Homo sapiens: one gene and its partner. The protein of the gene in region 1 purifies or fractionates together with the protein of each later gene. This does not show direct contact. Each region holds a gene or a part of one and is shown in the gene's direction. Other genes may lie near its edges.

What was found. Proteins that work in one complex are often made in the same cells at the same time.
Region 2: the proteins of ANGPTL7 (region 1) and ETV3 purify together in Homo sapiens (affinity purification with mass spectrometry; one large-scale study listed by BioGRID and IntAct). This does not show direct contact.

Annotation. Positions count from the first base shown.
Region 1 is NC_000001.11:11,192,355-11,196,481, forward strand, and holds the end of ANGPTL7 (angiopoietin-related protein 7 precursor), read left to right. Parts: coding exon 1-16; intron 17-1,225; coding exon 1,226-1,420; intron 1,421-1,812; coding exon of another isoform or gene 1,813-1,890; exon of another isoform or gene 1,891-2,055; intron 2,056-2,106; coding exon 2,107-2,305; intron 2,306-2,499; coding exon 2,500-2,669; 3' UTR 2,670-3,627; downstream 3,628-4,127. UniProt on the Homo sapiens protein: Has a role in the formation and organization of the extracellular matrix.
Region 2 is NC_000001.11:157,135,596-157,139,822, reverse strand, and holds the start of ETV3 (ETS translocation variant 3), read left to right. Parts: upstream 1-1,427; 5' UTR 1,428-1,507; intron 1,508-3,457; 5' UTR 3,458-3,470; coding exon 3,471-3,516; intron 3,517-4,114; coding exon 4,115-4,227. UniProt on the Homo sapiens protein: Transcriptional repressor that contribute to growth arrest during terminal macrophage differentiation by repressing target genes involved in Ras-dependent proliferation. Represses MMP1 promoter activity.

The DNA of each region.
Region 1 (4,127 bases):
CAGCCCTGAACTGGAGGTGAGGTCATTACAGTCACTGGCCATGCCCTAATACCTGTCCTTCACCCCCTCAAGGGGACTACAACAACAGGGCCATTCACAGTTTAAAGAAAGGAAAATTCGGCTGGGCGCAGTGGCTCACACCTGTAATCCCAGCACTATGGGAGGCCGAGGCAGGTGGATCACTTCAGGTCAGGAGTTTAAGACCAGCCTGGCCAACATGGTGAAACCCTGTCTCTACTAAAAATACAAAAAAATTAGCCAGGCATGGTGGTGGGCACCTGTAATCCCTGCTACACAGGAGGATTGCTTGAACTCAGGAGGCAGAGGTTGCAGTGAGCCGAGATCACGCCACTGCACTATAATCTGGGAGACAAAGTGAGACTCCATTTCAATTAAAAAAAAAAAAAAAAAAAAGGAAAACTCAAACACAAGCAAACACACCAAACACCACAGAGCTATGCAAACACTCAGTTTATGCCCTGCACTCCAAACCCAGGCATCTGTTTGGCCCCTTCAAATCATTATCAGTCAAACAACAAGCCTTCTAACATAGATCAGATCATTCTTATAACCACCACATAACTTAGTTTAAATCTCTTGCCATGTCCTAGAACAGCTATTCCTTGGGGGAGGAGAAAAGAAAACACGAAGGCAGCATCAAATTATCTGGATTTTCACCCAGGCATGGTGGCTCACACCTGTAATCCCAAGTTTTTTGGGAGGTGAGGTGGGCGGAACAATCACCTGAGGTCAGGACTTTGAGACCAGCCTGGCCAACATGCTGAAACCCAGTCTCTACTAAAAATACAAAAATTAGCCCAGTGTGGTGACAGGCACTCTGGTCCCAGCTACTAGGAAGGCAGGAGAATCACTGGAACTCAGGAGGTGGAGGTTGCAGTGAGCCGAGATTGCACCACTGTACTCTAGCCTGGGCAACAAGAGTGAAATTCTGCTTCAAAAAAAAAAAAAGTATCTGGATTTTTCCCTCCAAGCTTCATGTGCACTCACCCCCGGGCCCAATTTGCATCGTTCTTCCAGAGCAATGCACCACCCACCCCAGCTCACCAGCAGTGGGGCAGCATCACTGCCCGAGTGAGCCAGTGTGACTGCGGGAGTGCACACATCTACTGGCTCTGCAGGGACAGGAACAGGTTGGGAAGCCTGCCCTCTTGCTCCTGCCTTCTGCCCCTGCAAGTCCCTCACCAGAGTATCCCCTCTGCTTCAGGTGTTCTGTGACATGGAGACTTCAGGCGGAGGCTGGACCATCATCCAGAGACGAAAAAGTGGCCTTGTCTCCTTCTACCGGGACTGGAAGCAGTACAAGCAGGGCTTTGGCAGCATCCGTGGGGACTTCTGGCTGGGGAACGAACACATCCACCGGCTCTCCAGACAGCCAACCCGGCTGCGTGTAGAGATGGAGGTAAGCACAAGGCCAGGGGCCCCATGACTGGACCAGTGCCACCACACATGACCGCGTACAACTCCGGGGGTGCCATTCCTATTCTGATTCAAGACAAATCTGTATATTCATTGTGATGGTTTTCCTGCAAGTTGTAATGGAGTTGAGGAAAAATAGGTATTTTTCCTTTCTGCAACCCCCCCAACCCCCCGACAAAAGTGGGGCTGCAGGTGGGACAGGAAGAGGCCAGACCCAGGCCAGAGTAGAGCAAATTCAACAGTCAGCTGTGCCGAACACTAGTCTCTGCTCTGGCCGAGCATGAGGTCCTTTAGGTGCAAATCTTACTGATACTGTTTGGGGACCCTTGCTGAAGGTCTGAAAGCACTCACTATATCCTCATGTTTCTCTTACAGCAGCTCTGTGTGGGATTCAGCAAAAACATAGCTGCACCTTATAAGCAGGAAAGTGAGGAATATAGAAAGAGAGACTAATCAAGGCCATATGGTGAATCAGGAAAGAAGTTCGAGCCTTGTTTTCTGATTCCCAGGTTAACACAGTAAACTGGAGGTAAACAAGTAATAAAGTCTTATTAGATTCACACCTATAAAAAGATGTTTGGCTATGGGACTGTCAGGAGAGAAGGGGTATAGAGACAGCATGAAATGGAGCCTGCTGCACTTTCTTTAAGGCTCTGCTCCTCCTGACAGGACTGGGAGGGCAACCTGCGCTACGCTGAGTATAGCCACTTTGTTTTGGGCAATGAACTCAACAGCTATCGCCTCTTCCTGGGGAACTACACTGGCAATGTGGGGAACGACGCCCTCCAGTATCATAACAACACAGCCTTCAGCACCAAGGACAAGGACAATGACAACTGCTTGGACAAGTGTGCACAGCTCCGCAAAGGTGAGATTTGGGGGGACCGGAAAGGAGAAGTTCAGGTACAAGCTCATAATCCCACTTGAGGAGAAAGAGTGAATTATAACTGTACAGTTGATATTCCGGTTTTGGTATTCTTTCTGACCCTGGCTCTAACTCCTTACCTGATGTCTGGTCTATCACAGTCAACTTACTAGCACTGGGTCTGTTTCTCATGCCAGGTGGCTACTGGTACAACTGCTGCACAGACTCCAACCTCAATGGAGTGTACTACCGCCTGGGTGAGCACAATAAGCACCTGGATGGCATCACCTGGTATGGCTGGCATGGATCTACCTACTCCCTCAAACGGGTGGAGATGAAAATCCGCCCAGAAGACTTCAAGCCTTAAAAGGAGGCTGCCGTGGAGCACGGATACAGAAACTGAGACACGTGGAGACTGGATGAGGGCAGATGAGGACAGGAAGAGAGTGTTAGAAAGGGTAGGACTGAGAAACAGCCTATAATCTCCAAAGAAAGAATAAGTCTCCAAGGAGCACAAAAAAATCATATGTACCAAGGATGTTACAGTAAACAGGATGAACTATTTAAACCCACTGGGTCCTGCCACATCCTTCTCAAGGTGGTAGACTGAGTGGGGTCTCTCTGCCCAAGATCCCTGACATAGCAGTAGCTTGTCTTTTCCACATGATTTGTCTGTGAAAGAAAATAATTTTGAGATCGTTTTATCTATTTTCTCTACGGCTTAGGCTATGTGAGGGCAAAACACAAATCCCTTTGCTAAAAAGAACCATATTATTTTGATTCTCAAAGGATAGGCCTTTGAGTGTTAGAGAAAGGAGTGAAGGAGGCAGGTGGGAAATGGTATTTCTATTTTTAAATCCAGTGAAATTATCTTGAGTCTACACATTATTTTTAAAACACAAAAATTGTTCGGCTGGAACTGACCCAGGCTGGACTTGCGGGGAGGAAACTCCAGGGCACTGCATCTGGCGATCAGACTCTGAGCACTGCCCCTGCTCGCCTTGGTCATGTACAGCACTGAAAGGAATGAAGCACCAGCAGGAGGTGGACAGAGTCTCTCATGGATGCCGGCACAAAACTGCCTTAAAATATTCATAGTTAATACAGGTATATCTATTTTTATTTACTTTGTAAGAAACAAGCTCAAGGAGCTTCCTTTTAAATTTTGTCTGTAGGAAATGGTTGAAAACTGAAGGTAGATGGTGTTATAGTTAATAATAAATGCTGTAAATAAGCATCTCACTTTGTAAAAATAAAATATTGTGGTTTTGTTTTAAACATTCAACGTTTCTTTTCCTTCTACAATAAACACTTTCAAAATGTGAGTATCTTCTTTTTAAATTCTTACCATTACCACTTACAGCAGGATAAAAAGTTAAAGTTAAATCAGAGGGTGAGCAGTGACAGAGGCCCGGGGTTTGTTTTGGTGTTCAGGGCAACCAAGCGGGGAGCAGAAGCCAAAAGGGAACAGGTAAGGGACAAAAGGGCAGCAACCAGGACAATTCTTCATAAAGGGGATTACACGTCTGGGGCTGGGCAGTGAAGGCATCCAGCCTTATCAGACCCTCTATTCTACTTAGGATAGAGAAGCAAAAACAGGCCAGCAGACCTTACCCTAATGCTCGGGGCTAACCAAGTAAAAGTGGTGTGTGTGCGCTTTCTAACAAATAACCACTCAATCCTCTGTCCCCAAGAAAGCAAATATATTTACTGATATGTGAGCTTTAAGGAGATGGGGGTAGTTTATACTATCTCAGTGTTAGCCCTGATTTGGGATTACATCTCGGATTTAATTTGCCCTGTAGCAGATAGGTTAAAAAAGTCA
Region 2 (4,227 bases), about 150 Mb from region 1:
ATGCAAAGAATATATAGACAGTTCCTACAAAGAGCTAGTGGACTAGTTGCAGGTATCGGTAACCCTCTCTATGGTGTTTAAGTTCTGCTCCTTATTTTGTTCACCTACAGAGTAGGAAGTTCTAACTAGAAAAGACACAACAATGTTATCTTTTTTAAAAAACAGGTAAGGTAATTTTAGGCCAGAGGGAGCCAATTTACTAATTAATTTATCAAGAGCTACACAGTGACTAGTAGCACATTCAAAACTGGAAGCAATTTTTGTAACAACTAATATCTCCAAGTCCCATGTGGCAGAGACGGTGCAAAGGTCTTACTAGAGCAGAGGTACAAAGTTTTGATCCATTTGATCAAAATTGATCTTCAATTCTCCTTCAATCCCATCTCTCTTCTTCACCTCCCCCACGCTCGTATTTATTCTAAATTCTTTAACCTTTACTGATCCTCACTACTCCCTTTCTTCTGCCTCTGGAGTGAAACTATGCCTGGACACCACTCAGATTTACAGGGGTGGGACTGCAGATAAAGCTGAACTGCTTGAGATTCTTTATCCTTAATGAGCCTCTAAAGGAAGAAAAAATCATGCTTTGGACAGACAAATTGCCCGAGCAGGAACAAAAGGTAAAACCAAAAGGGGACACGCGTTTTAATGACTTAGGGAGAGGACTTGCAAGCTGCTTAGACTGGGACGAATTAAGACTAAATGCAGTGGGGTGGGAACTAGCGGGGAAGCGGTCATGCCCCCCAGTCTTCCCAGGGAGGAAATGCCAAAGCGACGTGCTTCAGAGAAAGCTTTGCGGTTTCTTTCATACGTATATGAAAGGGCCCTTTCTTAAAGGGTAGGGAAATTGCGTCTGAAGTCTGCGGGTCCCGTCTTCCCATTGTGAGGGATCCCCACTCTGGGAGGTCGCAGGGCCCATTTCTGGAGAAAGACGGGCCGCCTCTCTGTTGTGTGGGAGAGACTGTTTCCCGGCGCCTGGGCCTTCCTGTGGGGTCTGCGAGGTCCCCTCCCCCGGGAGGTGGGACCCCGGGGCAGCGCCTCGCCCCGCAAAGTCCGTTCTGCCTCACGGCGCAGGACTGGCGGGGGAAGCGTATAGCAGCTCAGCACCCCCTCGCGCCGCGTCACCCCTCGGCGTCTGGAGGACCCTGGCCCAGCAGCGGACCGGGCCGGCCGCCCGCCACGAGCGTGCGTAACGTGCCCCCGCAGCGTGACGCACGGGCCGTGCCGGGGCGGATGCGCGGGATGCGGGCCGGGAGGAGCGCGCAGGGGGAGGAGTGCGGGCGGAAGTCGGCGTCTGCTGAAAGGAGAAAGGAAAGGGAGACGCTGCTGGGTGCGGCGAGGTGAGGCTGGGAACCGGCGGGAGGGCGCCTCCTCCTCCCCCGCCCTCTCTGCTGAGGATGGAAGTGACGAAAGCAGCCGAGGAGGTCACTTCCTGCTGGGGTGGATGAGGAGGAGCCGGAGACGCCGCGGAGGAGACCGGACCGAAGACGGACCGTGCCGGGAAGAGGTGAGTCCCGGCCTCGCCTCGGCCGCCGGGGTGTCTGGGTTGGATCCGGGACCCTGGCGGGGACGGCGTCCCTGGAATCGGGGCCGGCCGCCAGGCCGCGTACCCACCCAGCTGGGCCTCACCCAGTGCGGGGGGCGGGGGAGGGTGGGATCCCGTGTCTGTCTGAGGGGCGACAGGGACCCAGGGCAGCGTTCATGCGGTGGCCCCGCGCAGCCCTGAGGCCACGGTTAAGGGAAGCCCGGCCCGGGAGGTGAATGGCAAGGAGGTTCTGGGGGCTGTGGAAGCCAGGACCCGGAGCTGCTGCGGGAAACCCGCAGCGCCAGACTGTGCATGCCTCACTCTTCGGGGAGTGGTCGCGATCAGAGGAAGGGCAGGGGTCCTGTGGTTTGCAGAGTTGAGACGAGTGGCCCTACTTGGATGGAAGTGTCCTTGCAGTGAATATGCGAAAGGCGTGCAGAGGCGCCCCAGGGCTCCTGGGAAAGGGACTTTTATGGGGAAAATTGGAGAGCTGGAGTGTCAAGAGAGGGTTTCCTTGTCAGGTTATCGTTGCAACGGGATTTGGACCCCAGGGTCGTGATGGTTGGAGGGAGTTCTGTGGCAGGGTAAAAGGCCTCGCGATCTGACAGCGCATCCTAGGAGTTAAGAGTCCAGGGCAGCTTCCTGGAGCAGTGGGGAAATTCGTGTTTTTCCTCCCTCATTGTCACTAAGGTGGAAGAGGAAGCTCCTGCCTCAGCCCCGGTGCCTCGTTATTATGTATCTCGTGTGTGTGTGAGAGTGTGTGTGTGTGTGTGTGTGTGTGTGTGTGTTTTTCCTTGTCTGCTCCTTCCTTTGGGGTGTTTATCTTGTCCTCGGCCGCTAGTAGTTTTGTAGACTGACACTTGCTGGTCTCCTTAATGTGTTTGGTGAGAAAAAATATTCAAAAGATCTAGAGAAATCCTAGGTTAGGTGAAATTTCCAAGATAAGGAATTTGTCCCTACGCGGGGGCCACTTAGGCATTCTCTCCAGATGCCTGCTAATGTGGATGCTGAGGGCCTGTCATCCACCCTGGGGAACAGCGAGGGTAGATCTGCCCTCCCTCCATGTCCCTCTGGCAGTTTCACCCCTCCCTCCTTTTTGCTAAGTGATTAACACAAAGCTCCTTGCTGGGAGGAACAGGAAATTTATTGAGGAACTGTAAATCTGGATGGAATGAATTCAAATCGCAGCAAGACTCCTTCCACTCACTGGCCAGAAGGGCTTCAGAAATGCCTGCTTTTCACCCCTTCCTGTTAAATGGAGAAAATGTATAATTTTTCTCAAAAAATTTTTGAGAGTTTGTGTGTGTTTTTTGAATAGAGTAAATGTACATATGGTGTGTTTACTTCCTGTATCCCAGGGTATTTTTCAAGGGGGAGGGAGCAGTTTGTGGCTGGGAAGAATCTTCCTTCTATCTCACATAATTCAGTAAAATAAATCAAAATCAGATGTTCATTCTTGAGTGGGAATCAGATGGATTTGGGATTTTTTCATCCTTTAAACTGGTACATCTTGGTGAACTCAGGCTTGTGTATCTTGGCATGTGGGCTTGTCTAGTAATAGAAGACAAACTGTTTGACTTGTTTTGGCTGCGTTTTTGGACCCATTTCACTGTACCTTCCTTTTTTATTTTTATTTTTTTACATTTGAAGGGTTGGTCAGGAGGAGGAAAACAAATATTAAAGACAGTGTTTACACTTTGTGGTTTAAAGTCAGGTGAGAGATAATTATGGCTTTTGAAGCTGATGACCTGAGGCCCATCATTTGATAACTTGGGGAGTAGCAGTTTGGAGGTGACATGTTTGAAAGAAAGAGAGTTGCATACGGAAAGAAGAACAGGGGAAAGGAAGTTTGGGGAGAGACTGCCAGAAAACTTTTGAGAGGATACTAAATAAATAGCATCTTAAAGTAATTGTGTGGCTTGTGTCTCTCAGCAGGCGGGTGAAAATGAAAGCCGGCTGTAGCATCGTGGAAAAGCCAGAAGGAGGTGGAGGTGAGCAGAAGTTAATCATCTCTGATGTACCTGGAAGCTTCCCTCAGTGGTTCCTGTCCTCTCCACTTGAGCTCTGTTCACAAATGTCAGACCATGACTGACACTCTCTTGGCTAGGTGGATACTGGCAGGACAGTTGTAGGCTTGTTTCCTATGGATGTATATTTAACATGTCTGGTCACCACACCCATATCCTAAGCTTTAGAGTCTCTTTGCTGTCAGAGACACAGTTCCAACCTTAGGGAAAAGGAGTTTTCAGCTGTATTTTCCTGAAACATTAGTTTATCTTTCCTGTTTGTTCCCTTTAGCACTTTTATGTCCTCACAGAAAGTAGGTGTATTTAGTAATGTATGAAAAGGTCAGCTTAGGACATCTGGTTGCTGCTGCCCAACTCTTATCAGATTTAATGATTGCCACAAGGATAGGTGACTTCTCTGTGCTTTCCTCTCCCCATTGTGGTTAGGCCCAGCTGACTGAGAGTACTTACAGCATGTTTGCAAAGCACTCTAGATTCTGAGCAGTGGAATGTGCAGTTGGGGTTGCTGGTATGTATGTACCTACCTCTTAACTAGCTTAATCTTGACCTTCTCACATGAAAGGGTATCAGTTTCCTGACTGGGCCTACAAAACAGAGTCATCCCCAGGCTCCCGGCAGATCCAGCTGTGGCACTTCATCCTGGAGCTGCTGCAGAAGGAAGAGTTCCGCCATGTC